Regions from separate parts of the Homo sapiens genome. Here region 1 is linked to region 2. The links come from fine-mapping of genetic effects on gene expression. A gene starts in region 2. The other region holds a variant in brackets. All regions are shown on one strand. Distances are between the middles of the regions.

Region 1 (4,378 bases), 45 kb after region 2:
GGGCACGGTGGCCACGCCTGTAATTCTAGCACTTTGAGAGGCCAAGATGAGTGGATCATGTGAGCTCAGGAGATAGAGACCAGCCTGAACAACATGATGAAACCCCATCTCTACAAAAATTAGCCAGGCGTGGTGGCAGGTGCCTGTGTTCCCAACTCCTTGGGAGGCTGAGGTGGGAGGATCGCTTGAGCCCAGGAGGTTGAGGCTGCAGTGAGCTGAGACTGCACCACTGCACTCCAGCCTGGGTGGCAGAGTGAGACCCTGTCTCAAAAAAAAAAAAAAAAAAAAAGAAGAAAAAGGCCAGGTGCGGTGGTTCACACCTGTAATCCCAGCACTTTGGGAGGCCGAGGCAGGCAGATCATGAGGTCAGGAGATCGAGACCATCCTGGCCAACATGATAAAATACAAAAAATTAGCCAGGCATGGTGGCGCATGCCTGTAGTCCCAGCTACTCGGGACGCTAAGGCAGTGGAATTCCTTGAACCCGGGAGGCAGAGGTTGCCGAGATCGTGCCAGCCTGGTGACAGAGCAAGACTCCGCCTCAAAAAAAAAAAAAAGAAGAAGAAGAAGAAAAAGCCAACAGAGTCAGCAGAGAGGAGGAAGAAAAGAAAAGCAGATAGAGAAGTTAGGCGCCTCTACATACCAGTGTTTTAGTTTTATTTATTTAATTTTATTTTTTATTTTAATTTTATTTTTTTGAAACAGGGTCTCACTCTGTTTCCCAGGCTGGCCTTGAATTCCTGGGCTCAAATAATCCTCCTGTCTTGGCCTCCAAAAGTGCTGGGATAACAGGCATGAGCCACCGTGCCCAGCCCCAATTCCTTTTAAAGGTGATTTTGTTTCGGGTCTCACTTATTTTTTTTTTCTTTTCTTTTCTTTTTTCTTTCTTTCTTTCTTTTTTTTTTTTCTGAGACAGCCTTGACCCCTGGGCTCAAGCCATCCTCCCACCTCAGCCTCCCTAGTAGCTGGGACTACAGGTGTGCACCACCACACCTGGCTAATTAATTTTTTTTTTTTTTTTTAGAGACAGGGTCTTGCTGTGTTGCCCAGGATGGTGTCAAATTCCTGGGCTCAAGTGATCCTCCTGCCTTGGACTCTCAAGTGCTGGGATGACAGGTGTGAGCCACCACGCCCAGCTGTAGGTCCCACTTCTGACTCTAGTTATGTCATCCTAAATAACAGGCTCTCTGAGAGAAAATGATATTTATTCTGGAATGCGTTGCAGTGGGAATGCATGTGCCATGGTAAACTGTATGGTAAACTGTGTGCATATACAGGGAGGCAAAAGAAGGCAAAGGTTTTTCAAGGAAAAGTGAAGAGGATCACCTAATTGTTTTGAGAGAATTCTCCTTGGCTACAAGGATCGATAACAAGGGTGACCTCAGTATGAGGTTGGACAGGGTTAGGGTTAAGTTGCTCAGCTGGGTGCGGTGACTCACGCCTATAATCCTAGCACTTTGGGAGGCTGAGGCGGGTGGATCACCTGAGGTCAGGAGTTCAAGAGCAGCCTGGCCAACAAGGTAAAACCCTGTCTCTACTAAAAACACAAAAATGAGCCAGGCGTGGTAGCGCATGCCTGTGATCCCAGCTACTCAGGAGGCTGAGGCAGGAGAATCGCTTGAACCTAGGAGGCGGAGGTTGTGGTGAGCCAAGATTGTGCCACTATACTCCAGCCTGGGTGACTGATCCAGACTCCGTTTCAGAAAAAAAAAAAAAAAAAAGTCAGCCGGGCACGGTAGCTCACGCCTTTAATCCCAGCACTTTGGGAGGCTGAGGCAGGTGGATCACTTGAAGTCAGGAGTTCAAGACCAGCCTGGCCAACATGGTGAAACCGTGTCTCTACTAAAAATACAAAAATTAGCTGGGTGTGGTGGTGCACACCTGCAATCCCAGCTACTTGGGAGGCTGAGGCAGAATCGCTTGAACCCAGGAGGCGGAGGTTGCAGTGAGCCGAGATTGCGCCACTGCGCTTCAGCCTGGGTAACAAGAGCGAAACTCCGTCTCAAAAAGTTGCTGGGCAGATGTCCTTGCAGTATTTTTTTTCTGTGGAAAGCTGTGGTTTCTGCATTTGCAGCCTTCCCCAGCTCTGTTTTTTGTTTTTTAACACAAGTGACTCCATTTTGATTCTGACAACTGTCATGGCAAGGAAGGCTGCCATGTTGGAAAATGAAGCCAATACAGAGAGAAAAACAAAGCCAAGAGGTGGAGAGAGCCCAAGTCCCTTGGGCTTCGGGGTCCATTACAGGAACAATGCATTCTGCCATCCTCCCTTTTTTTTTTTTTTTTTTTTTGCTTATGCCAGTTTGAGTTTGAATTCTGGCATTGTAAGTGAGGACATCCTAACTCCTAAAGGGCAGGCCCAGGGGGCGATACCCCTGGCAAAACAGGACCGTGGGATATGTCAAGCTTACCTCCTCTTTGGGAAGTCAGGCAGGCTGTGCTCCATGCCATCAGCTTCCTAGCCTGTGTTGGGCTGTGACACTGGTGACCCCAGTGAGGGTGCAGCCCCATGAAGAGGTAGAGGCTGTCACTGTGGCTCACTACGGTGTTCCTGGACCAGTTCAGGCACTTGGTGAATGTTTAGTGAACAAATGAGCTGAAGGAACAAATGGAGGAAGGCTGGG[C/A]AATCACAGCAGTTGCTGGAGAAGTGTCGGGGAGCCCAAGCCCCTCCCAGCCTGGCAGTATAGACACTCCGTGAGTTTCCGTTTCATTTAGGGGCAAGCTAGTAACCTCGTGGAATTGTACTTATCTGGCTTGTAGTCTTGCTACACCGGGAACTCTCCTATCCCCACTAGGGACCTTTACTTTTTTGTACAGTGGGGACAATGGCCACACTTACTGGCTAGGGTTGTGGTGAGGTGTTACCTATGGTATAACTGAGGTATTGATGCAAGAAGGAAGTTGAGATTTGTATCAACATATGGGACCATGTGGGTACAGATGAGACAGCACTGGTCACATGTCGATCACTAGAGGGATGAGCACATCAGAGTTGATGACAGTCATCTGTTGGTATCCGATAGGTATTTGTTCCAGGGCACCCTATAGCTGCCAAAGTCCAGGGATGCTCAAGTCCCTGATATAAAATGGATACATTATAGTTATACATATTTATTCCCATAGATTTTTTTTTCTTTTGAGATGGAGTCTCGCTCTGTCACCCAGGCTGGAGGGCAGTGGTGCAATCTCAGCTCACTGTAAGCTCCGCCTCCCGGGTTCAAGCGATTCTCCTGCTTCAGCCTCCCGAGTAACTGGGACTACAGGCGCCCGCCACCATGCTCAGCTAATTTTTCGTATTTTTAGTAGAGACGGGGTTTCACCGTGTTAGCCAGGATGGTCTTGATCTCCTGACCTCTTGATCTCCTGACCTTGTGATCCGCCCACCTCGGCCTCTCAAAGTGCTGGGATTACAGGCGTGAGCCACTGTGCGCCCAGCCCTTTTTTCTTTTTTTTTGAGACGGTGTGTCACTCTGTCGTCCAGGCTGGAGTGCAGTGGCGTGATCTCGGCTCACTGCAACCTCCACCTCCCAGGTTCAAGTGATTCTGCCTCAGCCTCCCGAGTAGCTGGGATCACAGGCATGCGCCAGCACGCCTGGCTAATTTTTGTGTTTTTAGTAGAGACAGGGTTTTACCATGTTGGCTAGGCTGGTCTGAAACTCCCGACTTCAGATTATCTGCCCACCTCGGTCTCCCAAAGTGCTGGGATTACAGGTGTGAGCCACCGTGCGCGGCCTGATTTTTTTTTTTTTTTTTTTTTGAGACAAAGTCTCGCTCTGTCACCCTGGCTGGAGTGCAGTGGCACAATCACGGCTCACTGCAGCCTCAACCTCCTGGACTGCAGCAATCTGCCTGCTTCAACCTCCGTAAGTGCTGGGATTACAGACATGAGCCACCAAGCCTGGTCCCATAGAATCTAAACCATCTTGAGATTATTTATCATGCTTAATACAATGTAAATGCTCTGCAAATAACAATTACACTGTATTGTGTGTGTGTGTTTTTTTTTTGATAGGATCTCACTCTGTTGCCCAGGCTGAAGTGCAGTGGTGTGATCTTGGCTCACTGCATCCTTGACCTCCTGGGCTCAAGTAATCCTGTCTCAGTCTCTCAAGTAGCTGGGACTACAGATGTGTGTCACCACGACTGGCTAATTTTATTTTTTTGTAGAGATGGGGTCTCGCTATTTTGCCTAGGCTGGTCTTGAATGCTTGGGCTCAAGTGATCTGCCCACTTTGGCCTCCCGAAGGCTGGGTTATAGGGCATGAGCCACCGTGCCAGCCTACACTGTATTTTTTTTTTTTTTTTTAAGACGAAGTTTTGCTTTTGTTGCCCAGGCTGGAGTGCAATGGCACAATCTTGGCTCACTGCAACTTCTGCC
Region 2 (4,378 bases):
CAAGTGATCCGCCCACCTCTGCCTCCCAAAGTGCTTGAATTGCAGGCATGAGCCACCACACCTGGCCAATCAATTGTATTTCTATACACAATCCAAAATGAAATTAAGAAAATAATTCCATTTATAACAGTGTCAAAAAAGAATAAAATACTTATTAATAGATTTTTTTAAAAGAAGCATGAGATTTGTACACTGAAAAGTACAAAACATCATTGAAAGAAATTCAAGAAGACCTAAATAAATGGAAAGACATCTGTATTAGTCATGGTTCTCCAGAGAAACAGAACCAACAGGACACACACACACACAGTTTATTTTAAGGATTTGGTTCACCCAATTGTCGGGGCTGACAAGTTGGTGTGAAATTTGTAGGACAGACTGACGGGCTGGAAACTCGGAGAATTTCTGTGTTACAGTCTTGTTGTTGTTGTTGTTGAGATGGAGTCTCACTCTTGTCGCCCAGGCTGGAGTGCAGTGGCATGATATCAGCTCACTGCAACCACTGCCTCCTGGGTTCAAGCGATTCTCCTGCCTCAGCTTCCCGAGTAGCTGGGATTACAGATGCCCGCCACCATGCCCAACTAATTTTTGTATTTTTAGTAGAGACGGGGTTTCATCACGTTGGTCAGGCTGGTCTCGAACTCCTGACCTCAGGCGATCCGCCTGCCTTGGCCTCCCAAAGTGCTGGGATGACAGACATGAGCCACCGCGCCTGGCCTGTGTTACAGTCTTGAGGCAGAATTTCTGCTTCTCCAGGAAACCTCGGGTTTTGCTCTTAAAGCCATCCAACTAAATGGATGAGGCCCACACACATTATCAAGGGTGATCTCTTTTACTTAAAGTCAGTTGAGGGCCAGGCATGGTGGCTCATGCCTATAATCTCAGTGCTTTTTTTTTTTTAGACAGAGTCTTGCTCTATCTCCCAGGCTGGAGTGCAATGGCACGATCTTGGCTCACTGCAACCTCCCCCTCCCAGGTTCAAGAGATTCTCGGCCGGGCGCGGTGGCTCACGCCTGTAATCCCAGCACTTTGGGAGGCCGAGATGGGCGGATCACAAGGTCAGGAGATCGAGACCATCCTGGCTAACACGGTGAAACCTCGTCTCTACCAAAAATACAAAAAAATTAGCCGGGCGTGGTGGCGAGTGCCTGTAGTCCCAGCTACTTGGGAGGCTGAGACAGGAGAATGGCGTGAACCCGGGAGGCGGAGCTTGCAGTGAGCCGAGGTCACACCACTGCACTCCAGCCTTGGCGACAGAGCAAGACTTTGTCTAAAAAAAAAAAAAAAAAAAAAAAAAATTCTCCTGCTTCAGCCTCCTGAGTAGCTGGGACTACAGGCATATGACACCATGTCCGGCTAATTTTTGTATTTTTTGTAGAGATGGGGTTTTGCCATGTTGGCCAGGCTGGTCTCGAACTCCTGACCTCAGGTGATCCGCTCACTTCAGCCTTCCAAAATGCTGGGATTACAGGCTTGAGTCACTGCACCCAGCATATGCCAGTACTTTGGAAGGCTGAGGCAGGAGGATTACTTAAGCCCAGGAGTTCAAGACTAGCCTGGGCAGTGTAGCAAGACCCTGTCTCTCTCTACAAGAATAGGAAAAGTTAGCCAGGCGTGGTGGCACTTGCCTGTGGTCCCAGCTACCTGGGAGGCTGAGGCAGGAGGATCCCTTGAGCCCAGGAAGTCGAGGCTGCAGTGAGCCATGATCCAATGCCGCTACACTGCAGCCTGGGTGATAGAGCGCGACCTCAACTTGGGGGGAAAAATCTGTCTATCTATCTATCTCTCCATATATGTGTTTAATAAAAATGGGCAAATGACTTGAATAGACATTTCTTCAGAGATCATATACAAAAGGCCAGCAAGCACATGAAAAGATGCTGAACACCATTAGTCATCAGGGAAATGAAAAAGAAAACCTTAACGGGGCGCGGTGGCTCACACCTGTAGTCCCAGCACTTTGGGAGGCTGAGGCGGGAGCATCGTTTGAGCCTGGGGCGGTCGAGGCTGCAGTGAGCTATGATCTCACCACTGCACTCCAGCCCGGGTGACAGAGCGAGACCCTGTGTCAAAAGAAAACAAAAAAAGAAAAGGAAAAAGAAAGCAAGGGAAGGAAGAAAGCCCTCGGTTCAGGGTCGCCGGGGAAGGGGCTGGTTTGGACGGCTGTCCCGCAGGCCCTCCGGGTTAGAGACCGTCGGGGGCGTGTCTTGAGCTGGGGACGCGACTCCTCGGCGGGGGTGCACCTGAGAGGCCGGGACCAGCGAGGCCGCGCCCCGGTGGCAGGTGACCCCGGGCGCGTCTCCGAGCGCCAGGGTGGGGCGAGGCGGACGCGCGCCCCAGGCCCGAGGGGGTGTGGCGCGGGCGCGCGCGGGTTCCGGGGTCGCCCGAGGCGGCGGGCGGGGAGCCGGGGCGCGGGGGAGGCGCGCGCCGCGGACGCGGCCATCGAGCGAAGGGGGTCGGCTGGCCGGGCGGGTCCCCCTTCAGGTCGCGGGGGTCAGGGCTGCGCGCGAGGTCCCTGGCCCCGGGGAGCAGCGGCCCCGCCTGCGTCCCCTGCCGCCGCGTCCCCCTCGGCCGGGCGTCCCCGGACGCCCCCGCCCCGCGCGGTGGTACGGTCCGGGTTTAAAAGGCTCCGGCGGCCCCCGGGCCAGCCCAGTGTGTGGGCGGCGGCGGCGGCGGCTGCGCGCTTGGGGCCCGGGGCGCGGGGCGAGGCCGTGGGGACGTGCGAGCGGGGCCGCGGTGGGGCTCGGGGGCGCGTCCACGTGGCCAGAGGGCGGCCACCCGGAGCCAGCGGAGGGACAGGTAGGTGGCCGTCATCGTCGCCGTCCGTGCGGGGCCAAACAGCTCGGGGCCCGGGGCTCCGGCAGCCCGGGGGTCCGGCTCGGCCTGTGGGGGTCAGGCCCTATCCCTGCCCGTCGGCGCCGGCCTGCCCGACTCCTTGTGCCCCGCATGGTGGGGACGCCAACCCAAGACCAACACCCTGCCCAAAGAGGACCCTTTGTCGCAGGGGAGCGGCCCCTCGGAGGATCAACGCTGTACTTCCCTCCCGCTAAGGGCTCCGCGAGTCCGCCGAGGGGTGCCCTGATGGGGCCCGGGCAAACCGGACCAGCAGCACGGTGGGGGGTGTGGGGGGCGGCCGCTGGACCCCCGTCTCTGCGTGGGGCTGCCCCTTCCTCAGGCTCTCTGCTGGCCCAGCTGTACCTGTGATGCCCGAGGTTGCCACTTACAGGTGGGGGCTGGGCCTGAAACTGCCTCCCCAGGTCTCCCTCCCGACCTGTCCCCAGCCTGTTCCTAGGCTTGTGTTCCCGGGGTGTAGAGGAGGTGAAGACAGGATGTGGCCTCTCTTTTCTTTGGCCTTCCTTTCTTCTCCGGCTGTTGCATGAGGGGTCCAGCTGACAAAAGAGCCCTGGAGAGGTGATCAATCTGAGCTGAAACTTTGCAGTTTCAAGCTGGGCCCGCTGCTTGTTCCTGGCAAATGCCTTATTTTTCCTTTCTCTCTCCTGTGCCTCCTTGGTTTGGTTCCCTGCACCACCCCCCGCTCCCCCCCCGCCTCCCGCCCTCAAGCTGGGTACCTCCTATCTCCCCCGGGAGCTCTGGCACTGAGAGGGTAGCGCTGAGCCCTGCCCTGTTGGCTGCCACGACACTGCTCTGCTGTCTTAGCAGCCTGGGGCTGACTGGGTGTGGCCTGGGGACTAAGTGCCAGTCCCAGCACTGTCCCTGTGGCTCCTGCCCTGTCTCTCCAAGGCCTTGACTGTATTTGGGGACATTGCTCCTCCTCTTGTAAGGCTCCTGGGACTCCAAAGGGCAGGTAGGGCCCCCTGTACATTCCCTTCTCCAGTGAACCCCTGGGTCTGGAGGGGGAGCCATGCAGGCTGTGGCTGAGCAGAGCTTGACTGATGTGTGTCTGGGTGCGTGGCTGAGGGGCAGGCGCGACTTGGCTTTGTGTTGCATCGGGGAGGCCAGACAGCGGGCTCCTGGATGGCCAGCTGAGGCCCTTGTCGGGGAGGCAGCTGGGGCCCCTGCAGGGGACATGGTGGTGCTGGATCCTGCATCAGGCCTCCATTCCCCAGACCTCTGTCCCAGGGCTCCTGGTGGCAGTGCCACTCCAGGTGGTGTTCCTGGCCCTGCCCCTCTCCCCCAGCTTGCGATTATTCTGTGCCTGCCTCCCTCTCCCCTCAGCTCAGGCGTTGGGGGCAGCCCAGAGGCCTGGGGCTTGCTGTTCTTTGCTGTTGGTTGCCCCGGGCTCTGAGATGTGGCATCTGGGGTCCCAGTTCCAGCATCTGCTCTGCTACCCCCTTGGGTGTGGCCCAGCTGAGGCGAGGCCTCCTGGCTCCTTTCCAGCATGGGGGCTGAGGGACGATTGATGGCCCCCAAGCCTGCC

Evidence for each region. PIP is the estimated chance that this variant, and not a neighbour inherited with it, causes the effect. A credible set is the group of variants that fine-mapping cannot tell apart.
Region 1: its variant is the best candidate, but not a certain one, in a credible set for the expression of PLXNA3 in esophagus mucosa (GTEx, PIP 0.51).

What each region holds. Positions count from the first base shown.
Region 1 is chrX:154,500,214-154,504,591 of GRCh38, forward strand. No RefSeq gene overlaps it. Among named protein-coding and RNA genes, the nearest start is that of SLC10A3, 12 kb to the left of the region's middle. The variant C/A (reference allele first, on the strand shown) is at 2,625.
Region 2 is chrX:154,455,630-154,460,007 of GRCh38, forward strand. PLXNA3 (plexin A3) reads left to right here and starts at 2,652. Exons shown (of 33, transcript NM_017514.5): 1 at 2,652-2,799. RefSeq lists enhancers at 2,060-2,129, 3,555-4,107 and silencers at 2,220-2,389, 2,520-2,759, 3,000-3,069.